Linked DNA regions of Homo sapiens: region 1 is linked to region 2. Evidence: fine-mapped expression QTL. A gene starts in region 2. The other region holds a variant in brackets. All regions are shown on one strand. Distances are from middle to middle. Region 1 overlaps FCHO1 (FCH and mu domain containing endocytic adaptor 1). Region 2 holds the start of FCHO1 (FCH and mu domain containing endocytic adaptor 1).

The links. PIP is the estimated chance that this variant, and not a neighbour inherited with it, causes the effect.
Region 1: its variant is fine-mapped to the expression of FCHO1 in whole blood (INTERVAL, PIP 0.92).

The regions. Positions count from the first base shown.
Region 1 is chr19:17,780,200-17,785,564 of GRCh38, forward strand. FCHO1 (FCH and mu domain containing endocytic adaptor 1) reads left to right here. Exons shown (of 29, transcript NM_015122.3): 21 at 1,032-1,144; 22 at 1,253-1,340; 23 at 1,513-1,621; 24 at 2,818-2,973; 25 at 3,904-4,036; 26 at 4,526-4,725. Among named protein-coding and RNA genes, the nearest start is that of B3GNT3, 12 kb to the right of the region's middle. The variant A/C (reference allele first, on the strand shown) is at 2,480.
Region 2 is chr19:17,748,713-17,754,077 of GRCh38, forward strand. It overlaps FCHO1 (FCH and mu domain containing endocytic adaptor 1), which reads left to right and starts at 2,765. Exons shown (of 29, transcript NM_015122.3): 1 at 2,765-2,865. It overlaps FCHO1-AS1 (FCHO1 antisense RNA 1), which reads right to left and starts at 2,685. Exons shown (of 5, transcript XR_007067152.1): 1 at 2,504-2,685; 2 at 1,946-2,038; 3 at 571-651. RefSeq lists an enhancer at 4,923-5,365.

The sequences.
Region 1 (5,365 bases), 31 kb after region 2:
TGTTGCCCGGGCTGGAGTGCAGTGGTGTGATCTTGGCTCACTGCAACCTCTGCCTCCCAGGTTCAAACAGTTTTCTGCCTCAGCCTCCCAAGTAGCTGGGACTACAGGTGCGTACCGCCACACGTGGCTAATTTTTGTATTTTTAGTAGAGATGGGGTTTCACCATGTTGGACAGGCTGGTCTCGAACTCCTGACCTCAGGTGATCTGCCTGCCTCGGCCTCCCAAAGTGTTGAGATTACAGGCGTGAGCCACCGCACCCGGCCTGAGTAGAGGCTCTTATCCAACCCTGCAAATTCTGCCCCCCCAGGGGACATTGTCAGTGTCTGGAGACATTTTTGGTTGTCACCACCAGGCAGGAGTGGTGCTCCTGGCATTCAGTGGGTGGAGGCCTGGGTTGCTGCTCAGCACCCTACAGTGCACAGGGCAGCCCCCGCCCCCGAGAATGGTCCAGCCCCCAAATATCCACAGTGCTGAGGCTGAGAAAGTCGGGTAGAGCGGGGAGCACAGCTTGGGGTACAGGTGAGAGGGGAGGTAGGTGGGAGGGGAGGTTGGCAAGCAAGGGAGCACGTTCATAGATGGAACAGAACCAGGACCCTGAGGAAGCAGGAGAGGGAGGGGAGCTTGGGTGTTAAAGGCATGAGACTCAGACACAGACCACAGTAGGTGGCTGCAGTCAGGTTCTCGGAAAGGGTAGAGGTCACAAAATGGCTGAATGTTGGCTAAAAATCCTCTGCTGAACCCCCCTTACAGCATGCCTGCGTCTTAAGCCTTCAGTGCTTGCTTGCATACCCCCAGTGATGGGGAGCTCACCCCTTATTGGGCCACCATTCTGGTGTCTGGGAGGGTTGGGGGTGTGGACAGTATCTGCAGTCCTGTCTGGCACCTTTTCTGCAACACCAGGACTTCAGACCCATTGGGGGTCTCTGCAGAAAAGCCCACCTCCTAAGATTTTGGCTGAGTTTGTGCCCCTGGGGAGGCCCCAGAGGCCCCGGGCAGCATCTCAGCAGTGCCTCTTTGTACTCGCTCCTAGACCTGATGCCTGCACCTGCTGACCCCACAGCCAGGGAGGGCCTGGCAGCCCCACCCAGGAGACTTCGCTCTAGGAAGGTGTCCTGCCCTCTCACACGTAGCAATGGGGACCTGGTAGGTGAGGGGGCGTGGCAGGAGCTGGACTGGGGGTCGCGTCTGGGGTCCGCTTTTGGGCACTGGTCCTGGGGCACTCACAGCCAAGATTGTCTCTTTCCCTTCCAGTCTCGTTCCCTGAGCCCCTCCCCACTGGGCTCTTCAGCCGCCAGCACTGCCTTGGAACGGCCCAGCTTCTTATCCCAGACAGGACACGGTATGTGAGGGCGGTCCTGGGCCTGGCTTTGGGCCTCAGTGTCACCTTCTCTGGTCTGGGTGGGTGGCTTCTCTGTTGGCAGAGGTGTGGTTGGGCGGAGGGAGTCTCGAGCCTGGAGCCTATATTCACACTGTCTATCCGTTGTTCCCCATTCCCTCTCCACCACCCCCAGGAGTCTCCCGGGGTCCGAGCCCTGTGGTCCTGGGCTCCCAGGATGCCCTGCCCATAGCCACAGCCTTCACAGAGTATGTCCACGCCTACTTCCGTGGCCACAGCCCCAGGTACCCAGTGATGGGCAGACAGGGCCCGTGGGAAGTCTGTGTTGGGGGAGTCCAGCAGGGACAGCTTTCAGATGTGCTTCATGGTCTGTCTTATAGTGAAAGGGCCTTGAACACTGAGCCAAGTGACCAGGCCCCTGTCCTGAGGGCAGTGGAGCCATAGGAGGGCCTTTTTTTTTTTTTTTTTTTTTTTTTTTTTGAGACAGAGTTTCGCTCTTGCTGCCCAGGCTGGAGTGTGCAGTGGTGCAATCTCGCAATCTCAGCTCACTGCAACCTCTGCCTCCCGGGTTCAAGCAATTCTCCTGTCTCAGCCTCCCGAGTAGCTGGAACTACAGATGCGTGCCACTGCACCCGACTAAATTATTGTGCTTTTTGTTTGTTTATTTGTTTGTTTGTTTGTTTTGAGACAGGGTCTCACTCTGTTGCCCAGGCTGGAGTGTAGTGGCGTGATCTCAGTTCACTGCCACCTCTGCCTCCTGGGTTCAAGAGATTCTCCTGCCTCAGCCTCCCGAGTAATTCTGGGATTACAGGCACATGCCACCACACCCTGCTGATTTTGTGTCTTTAGTAGAGACAGGGTTTCACCATGTTGGCCAGGCTGGTCTCGAACTCCTGGCCTCAAGTAATCCAGCTGCCTCAGCCTCCCAAGGTGCTGGGAGGATAGACATGAGCCACTGTGCCCAGCCATAGGAGAGCATTTAAGCAGGGCTATGCATTGCTGTAGACGCCAAGGCTGCCGTGGGCATTAAGATGAAGGGAGTAATACTAGAAGTTAGGCCCAGTAAGTGGGTAAGGGCGTGGGTTAGGGACAAGCGGAGTGCAGGGATATATATTGGGGTGGCCTTCAGCAGAAAAGATCTG[A/C]AAGTCAAACCATGAAGAAGAGGAGAGTGTCAGATCAAAAACCCAAGCAAAGGATAGCTAAAAAACTGAACATTTTAATTTGAGCTTCCTGGTGGCCTAGGAGAAAAGAGAACTAGGGATGGAGATGTTCCTGCCTCCTTCAGCCCAGGGTGGATTCTTCCTGTCCAGGCAGGAATGAAAGAGGAGGTTGGGGGAAAGGATACGGGGGATCATCAGGGCCATCCTCCTAGATCCGAGGAGTCTGGGGAGCCACAGGCACCAGTGAAACCAAGAGAAGGGGAAGGATGAGGCACCAGGCAGAGCCCTAAGCCAACACCCAGTCCCCTCATCCTCCCTAGCTGCCTGGCTCGAGTAACTGGGGAGCTGACCATGACCTTCCCTGCTGGCATCGTGCGTGTGTTCAGCGGGACCCCACCACCACCTGTCCTCAGCTTCCGGCTTGTACACACAACCGCTATTGAGCACTTCCAGCCCAACGCCGATCTGCTGTTCAGGTACTATGGAGGGGCAGTGGGAGAGGGCCTCGGAGGCTGCTGGGGATCAGGCTTCCGGACTCTGAGTTCCCTCTCTGCTTCCTGGGATTTTTTCTTTTCTTTTTTTTTTGTAGAGACGGAGTCTTGCTCTGTCGCCCAGGCTGGAGTGCAATGGCGTCATCTCGGCTCACTGCAACTCCGCCTCCCGGGTTCAAGCAATTCTCCTGCCTCAGCCTCCCAAGTAGCTGGGATTACAGGCACGTGCCACTACACCCAGCTAATTTCTTTCGTATTTTAGTAGAGACAGGGTTTCATCATGTTGCCCAGGCTGGTCTCAAACTCCTGAGCTCAGGCAATCCGCCCGCCTTGGCCTCCCAAAGTGCTAGGATTACAGGCGTGAGCTACCACACCCGGCTTGATTTTTTTTTTTTAATTATTATTTTTTTGAGATGGAGTTTTGCTCTTGTTGCCCAGGCTGGAGTGCAGTGGCGTGATCTCGGCTCACTGCAAGCTCCGCCTTCCGGATTCAAGTGATTCTCTTGCCTCAGCCACCTGAGTAGCTGGGATTACAGGCATGTGCCACCATGCCTGGCTGATTTTTGTATTTTTAGTAGAGATGGGGTTGCACCATGTTGGTCAAGCTGGTCTTAAACTCCTGACCTCAGGTGATCCACCCGTCTCAGCCTCCCAAAGTGCTGGGATTACAAGCATGAGCCACCACACCCAGCCACCTCCTGGGATTTGCTGTGTGGCGTGGGGCAAGTAACTTGCCCTCTCTGACCCTTGTTTTCCATCCCTCCTTTACTGCCCGCACCACAACCACCCAGGTAGGGCTTTGCTGGGCCCAGGGTGGGCCAGGAAATTGCATCTTTAGGAAGGGGTAGATTGAATGCTGGGAGCCCTGGGAGGGCATGTCCCGAGGATTGGGGTGATCAGTCCGGGTCTCTGCAGTGACCCCTCCCAGAGTGACCCTGAGACCAAAGACTTCTGGCTCAACATGGCAGCTCTGACCGAAGCCCTGCAGCGCCAGGCAGAGCAGAACCCCACTGCCTCCTACTACAACGTGGTGCTGCTGCGATACCAGGTGCGCCACCCGCATGGGGCCGGGAGGAGGTGGTGGAGTGGGGGACACGGTGAGCCGGCAGCAGACATGGAGGCGCCTGCGTGTTGGCCAGGCTGGTCTCGAATTCCTGACCTCAAGAGATCCAATCTGTGAGAGCCGATGAGCTGGAGGGAGTAGGCAGTGTGGGTCGGGAATGAACGGTGGAGGAGTAGGCAGTGTGGAAGAGCGTGCATCCCCTGTTGCAGATAGTATGTTTATGTGAACTAGAAGCAGCCCAGCCCCGGAACCTTACACTTGAACTTCCCTGGGAGACTTTGTTAGAATGAGGCGCTCTCCTGCCCCCTGCTGGAAACCTGGTGTAATACAGCCTCTCATCCATCAAATCTCCCTGTGACTGGACCCCCTTGGGGCGGTGCGTGCATCGCAGGGTCAAGGTGGTTGAATAGCGCATGGTGTGGCAAGACAGGATGGCCCAAGCTGTGTCCTCTCTCTCATTCTCATTCTTCCTAGTTCTCCCGCCCGGGTCCCCAGTCTGTGCCTCTGCAGCTCAGTGCCCACTGGCAGTGTGGAGCCACCCTCACCCAGGTCTCAGTGGAGTACGGCTACCGGCCCGGTGCCACGGCTGTGCCCACACCACTCACGAACGTCCAGATCCTGCTGCCTGTGGGGGAGCCTGTGACCAACGTCCGCTTGCAGCCGGCTGCCACCTGGTGAGGGCTTGCGGGAGGCCAAGGAAAACTCAGCAGTTTCCCCCATAACCCCAGACCTTCTCCCTGATGCATTGATTAAAGGGTGCACCCTCGGCCTGACCGTTAACTGTGAGCCCACCCTGCTTAGCACTAAGGGTGATGTTATGAGTGCCAGGTGCAGTGGCTCATGCCTGTAATTGCAGTGCTTTGGGAGGCTGAGGTGGGAGGATCACTTAAGGCCAGGAGTTTGAGACCAGCCTGGGCAATATGGTGAGATCTCATCTCTACAAAAAATATTTTGTTTATTTATTTATTTATTTAATTTATTTACTTTGAGATGAAGTCTCGCTCTGTCGTGCAGGTTGGAGTGCAGTGGCACGATCTCAGCTCACTGCAATCTCCGCCTCCCGGGTTCAAGCGATTTTCTCTGCCTCAGCCTCCCGGATAGCTGGGATTACAGGTGCCTGCTACCACACCCAGCTGATTTTTGTGTTTTTTTAGTAGACATGAGGTTTCACCATGTTGGTCAGGCTTGTCTCGAACTGCTGACCTCAGGTGATCCACCCGCCTCGGCCTCCCAAAGGACTGCGATTATAGGCATGAACCACTGCACCCAGCCTTACAAAAAAATATTTTAAAAAGTAGTCAGGCCGGGTGCGGT
Region 2 (5,365 bases):
GTGTCGAATGGACCTGCTTCACTGGTGACCTTGGGCAGGTGACAGCACCTTTCTGAACCTCGGTTTCCTCTTTTGAAAATTGAGGTTGGGAGCTTCGGACCCTGCATTTTACAGATTCTGAACTCACCCAGCCCACATTTTGTCCAATGGTGATTCACTCTTTTGCTTAACATGTGGGTGGTTTGGGGTCAAGACAGCATTGGGTTTGGAGACCCTCCCACAGTGCCTTGCTATCCTCTCAGCCTCAGTTTACTGCACTGCAAAATGGGTTGATGATGACACTCTGATATTGGGGCTGAGGGCATGGGGACAGGGAGTAAAACATAGGACCAAGCTGCAATGGCTGGGATGGGGCATCGCCACCCTGGTCTCACCATTGGGGCCACTTAGGGCACACCCTGACCCACATACCATCACCCACGCCAGGGGTGAACCTGTTCTCGGGCGAGGTCCTGGGCAGGAGGGGGTGGGAGTTGCCAGGCCAGCTCATTCCCTGTCCCTTGGAGCGCCCTCCCAGTGGTGGGCATGGGGCTGGGAGTCTGACACCCCCAGGTTTGAATTTGCCTCTACCTGTGTGTGTGTTTTTCCCTTGGTGCCTTTGTTTGTTCTTCTGTGAAATGGGCTGAATTCCTCTGGGAAGATGGGAGGAGTCTGTGGGAGGAGGAAGCTCTGTAAATACAGACATGATTATTATAATATTAATGACAGTATTAGTGCTCTTTAAATCGGGTCACAGCTGACCAGGAGGAGGGAGGGGAAGGGGGAGTCTATCAAAGGCATTGCCTGAGGAGACTCCAGCACCTGGGAAAGTTGGGTACACAGTAGGCATTCAATAGATGTTTGCCAAATGAAGTGAGGAAGAGGGAGGGGACCCATGGGGAGGACAGAAAATTTCTGAGAATCCCTGGCTCAGATTCCCACTTGGTGGCCCGAGTCACTGTGTGACCTGGGGCACGTGTCTCAGTTTCCCCATCGTGGTGCTGGTTGAGATAAGATACTGCCTTGAGGTGTGGTGACGAGAATCAAGCCAGATTGTCTGTGATCGCAGCCCAGGTGGCGAGGCCAAGAGGGGAGACATGACATAGTGGGTCATTGAAACAGCATGGTACCTGCTTGAACCAAGTGACTGGTCCGTGGGAAGGATGAGAAAACCCTTGCTACTGGCCCTACTGTACATACACTGGGGTCCAAGAGAGAGGGAAATGTGAGATCCTGTTTCCCAGGATCCTGGAAGCCAGATCGTGGAAGGTCAGGAGTGGCCCAAGGTCATCAGGCAAGACGTCAGCGGCTCCGGACACCCAGCCAGGCACCACTCGATTCCCAGGATGGGAGCTCGGGTCTTGCCTTTGTTGCTGATGTGGTTCCTGCTTTGTTTTATCTGTTCTGGGGCTGCTCACATGTCTCAGCCCCAGGTTTGCAAGACTTGGTGCCGGGAAGGCAGGATGGGGACCTCTGAGTCAGCTGGCAATGTGCTGTGTAACCTTGGGCAAGTCTCCGGCCATCTCTGGGCTTTGTGCTGGTACTGTACAGGCTGGGAGACTTGGGTTCTAGCAGGGCTGACTTCTCCATCAGACCCAAAATGCCCAGTGTCTCAGGCTCACAGTGCTTTTAGGGGTCCCTAGGTTGATGTTTTCACTTCTTTTAAAATCCAAAGGGAAAAAAATGAACTCTTGGGTTGAAGGAAACATTTTTGTGTATAATATTAATATATTTGTCTTTATGTCAATGTAGTTGTAAAATACAGTTTTGTTTTGTTTTGTTTTTGAGACAGAGTCTCTCTCTGTCACCCAGGCTGGAGTGCAGTGGCTCGATCTCCGCTCACTGCAACCTCCATCTCCTGGGTTCAAGCGATTCTCCTGCCTCAGCCTCCCGAGTAGCTGGGATTACAGGCATATGCCACCCCACCCAGCTAACTTTTGTATTTTTAGTAGAGACGGGGTTTTACCATGTTGCCCAGGCTGTTCTCGCACTCCTGGGCTCAAGCAATCCACCTGCCTCGGCCTCCCAAAGTGCTGGGATTCCAGGCATCAGCCACCACCTAAAATATAATTTTAAATTTCTTTTGTAGTGAAGGAAAGCGCTCATGAATGCAAAAATGTCTTCCCCTTTCTTTTCTTTTTTTTTTTTTTTTGAGATGGAGTCTCGCTCTGTCGCCAGGCTGGAGTGCAGTGGCGCAATCTCGGCTCACTGCAACCTCTGGCTCACTGCAACCTCCACCTCCCGGGTTCAAGTGATTCTCCTGCCTCAGCCTCCTGAGTAGCTGGGACTACAGGCATGGGCCACCACGCCCAGCTAATTTTTGTATTTTTAGTAGAGACGGGGTTTCACCGTGTTGGCCAGGATAGTGTCAACCTCTTGACCTCGTGATCCACCCACCTTGGCCTCTCAAAGTGCTGGGATTACAGGCGTGAGCCACCGCGCCTGGCCATGTCTTCCCCTTTCTGAGCGCATTTCCCTCTCTGAGCCTCAGTTTGCCCAGTCTGTGAAGTGGGTATCGGCCTACCTCAGGATGGCAAGATGTTGAATGCCTGGGCCAGGGTTGGTGCTCAGTTATTTCCCAATTGCCATGATTAATATTTGTTCGGTAAGAACAGCTCCAGGTTCAGGCCGGGGGGCTCCAGGTTCAAGCGCCTCTTGTTTACTCACCCATGGCCTGTGTGGTTCCAGGGAGGTCCCATGGGTGCTGATCGGGCGGGGGAGGAAAGGTGGCGGTTGGATGGTAGGCGGGGCGGGGTGAGCTTCCTGTCCCCCCCCCAACCCATGCACACAAGCCTCCAACTTGGTGCTGACGGAAGTGGCCTCGTGGCTGTCTCCTGGCGCCTGCCCCGTCAGACAGGGGCCCCATCCCACTCGCTACCCTGTCCGGTGAGTTTGAGCCCTGGCCAGTAGATACCCATCATCTCGCCTTGGCCCCCCTCAGGAACAGAGGGGAGGCCCCCCTGCCCGGAGCCTGGGTTTCAGGAGAAGTAGCAGGTGTCACTTCCTGGGCTGGCCAAAGCCTGCATGGGGCCACCCGTTGCCCTGCCCCCCGTCCCCCATTCCAGCTGTGAGTGGTGGTTTGGGTTAGGGGGGCGGCAAGGGGAGCTTGGAAACCCAGAGAGCCACGCGTGATGGTTTCAAACAGGAGGTCATTGGCAGACAGACCAGGGGCAAAATCACAGTCAGCCGGGACCAATGATTGATCTCTCTGTGCCTCGGTTTCCTTCATAAAGTTGGGGTTGCCTCTGAGGGCATGGCATGAAGATTGGATGAGCAGATGCGTGTGAATAGTTGGGTACAGGGTCGCACACATACTGGTGCTCCATGTGTATCTGTCTGCCAGAGGTGGGGTGAGGCAATCTAATTGAAACTGTGAAAACAGTAGTGAGATTCTTGGTTTCTGGGGAACTTGGGCTCCTTGGTTCCTGGGATCTTCTAGAACAATGTTGGCCATCCAATACAGCAGCCATCAGCCCCATGTAGCTACTGAGCCTTGGAAGAGAGGCTGGCACAGCTGAGGAGCTGGGCATATAATTGTATGTATGTATGTATGTATGTATGTATGTATTTAATTATTATTTTTTTAAGACAGAATCTCACTCTTTCAACCAGGTTGGAGTGCAGTGGGGCAATCTTGGCTCACTACAACCTCCGCCTCCCAGGTTCAAGTGATTCTCCTGCCTCATCCTCCCAAGTAGCTGGGACTACAGGTGTGTGCCACCACGCCCTGCTGATTTTTATATTTTTTGGTAGAGATGGGGTTTCACCATGTTGGCCAGGCAGGTCTCGAACTCCTGACCTCAAGTGATCCACCCACCTCGGCCTCCCAAAGTGCTGGGATTACAGGCGTGAGCCACTGCGCCCAGCCAATTGTATTTAATTTTACTTGGTTTAACATTAATACAAAAATTAATACAAAAATTAAGGCCAGGGGTTGTGGCTCATGGCTGTAATCCCAGCACTTTGGGGGTCCCAGGCAGGAGGATGGCTTGAGCTCAGGAGTTCGAGACTGGCCTGGGCCACACTAGTGAGACCTAGTCTCTACAAAAAAAAAAAAAAAAATTTATTTTTAATTAGTTAGACATGTAGTCCCAGCTACTCGGGTGGCTGAGATGGGAGGATCACTTGAGCCTGGGAAGTCGAGGCTGCCATGAGCTGTGATCATGCCACTGCACACTCCAGCCTGGGTGACAGAGCAAGAACCTGTCTCCAGAAAAAATAAAAAAATAAAAAAAACTTAATACAAAAATTATTCAGGCGTGAGCCTGTAGTCTCAGCTACTCGGGAGGCTACTATTCAAGGCTCCCTTGAGCCTGGGAGGTGGAGGCTGCAGTGAGCTATGATCGCACCACTGCACTCCAGCCTGGGCAACAGAGCGAGACCCTGTCTCCAAAAAAAAAAAAAATTAAGTCACCACATGGGGCTAGTGGTTCCCATGCCAGTCAGCACAGCTCTAAGAGATTTGGAGATGCTTAGGGTCCTGGTCATGGACAGAAGCTAAGAAATGATATGGAAATTTAGGGCTTTTCCCCTAGGGATGTCAGTGTAGCATGCTCACCACCCTACCCCTGCCACCAAACTAGGTTTCCTAAGGGGGTGTGGTGGGGACTGAAGTTTTTCAGGGGCCCTGTCATTAACCAGTGCAGGGTTGGGAATGTTTGTTGAAACAAATAATTCCTTGCCCAGTGAACTCCTATTCATGCTTTAAAACCCCAACTCCCATGAGCCCTCCTTTAGTCCAGGTTCTTTTGGACCTTGTCCCTCCATCTGGCCCAGCCCTGACCATGCAGGACGGTGATATCTGTGTCCAGCTCTGTCTCTCTAGACTGGGGACTCCTGCAGGGCCAGGCCCGAGGCTGAATCAACTCAGGGACCCTGACATTGTTCTAGTCTGGGTGAGCAAGTAGGAGGTCTTGGGTGACTCACAGAAGTCCCGGGATTGGAGGCTCAATGATAATGGGTCCAATTAAACTAACTAACTTTCTTTCTTTTTGAGACAGGGTCTTACTCTGTCGCCCAGGCTGGAGTGCAGTGGCGCCATCTCAGCTCACTGCAACCTCCGCCTCCCAGGTTCAAGCGATTCTCCTGTCTCAGCCTCCCAAGTAGCTGGGATTACAGGTGCCCGCCACCACACCTGGCTAATTTTTGTATTTTTAATAGAGACAGGGTTTCACCACTTTGGCCAGGCTGGTCTCAAACTCCTGACCTCAAGTGATCTGCCCGCCTCGGTCCCCCAAAGTGCTGGGATTACAGGCGTGAGCCACCACTTCTAGCCTAAACTAACTTTCAAGATTAGGTAAACTGAGGCACAGAGAGGGGCAGCCTTGCCCAAGGTCTTGCTCAGTCCTTTCCTGGGGAGGCCCCGGGAGCTTCCCCATCCTGTGGT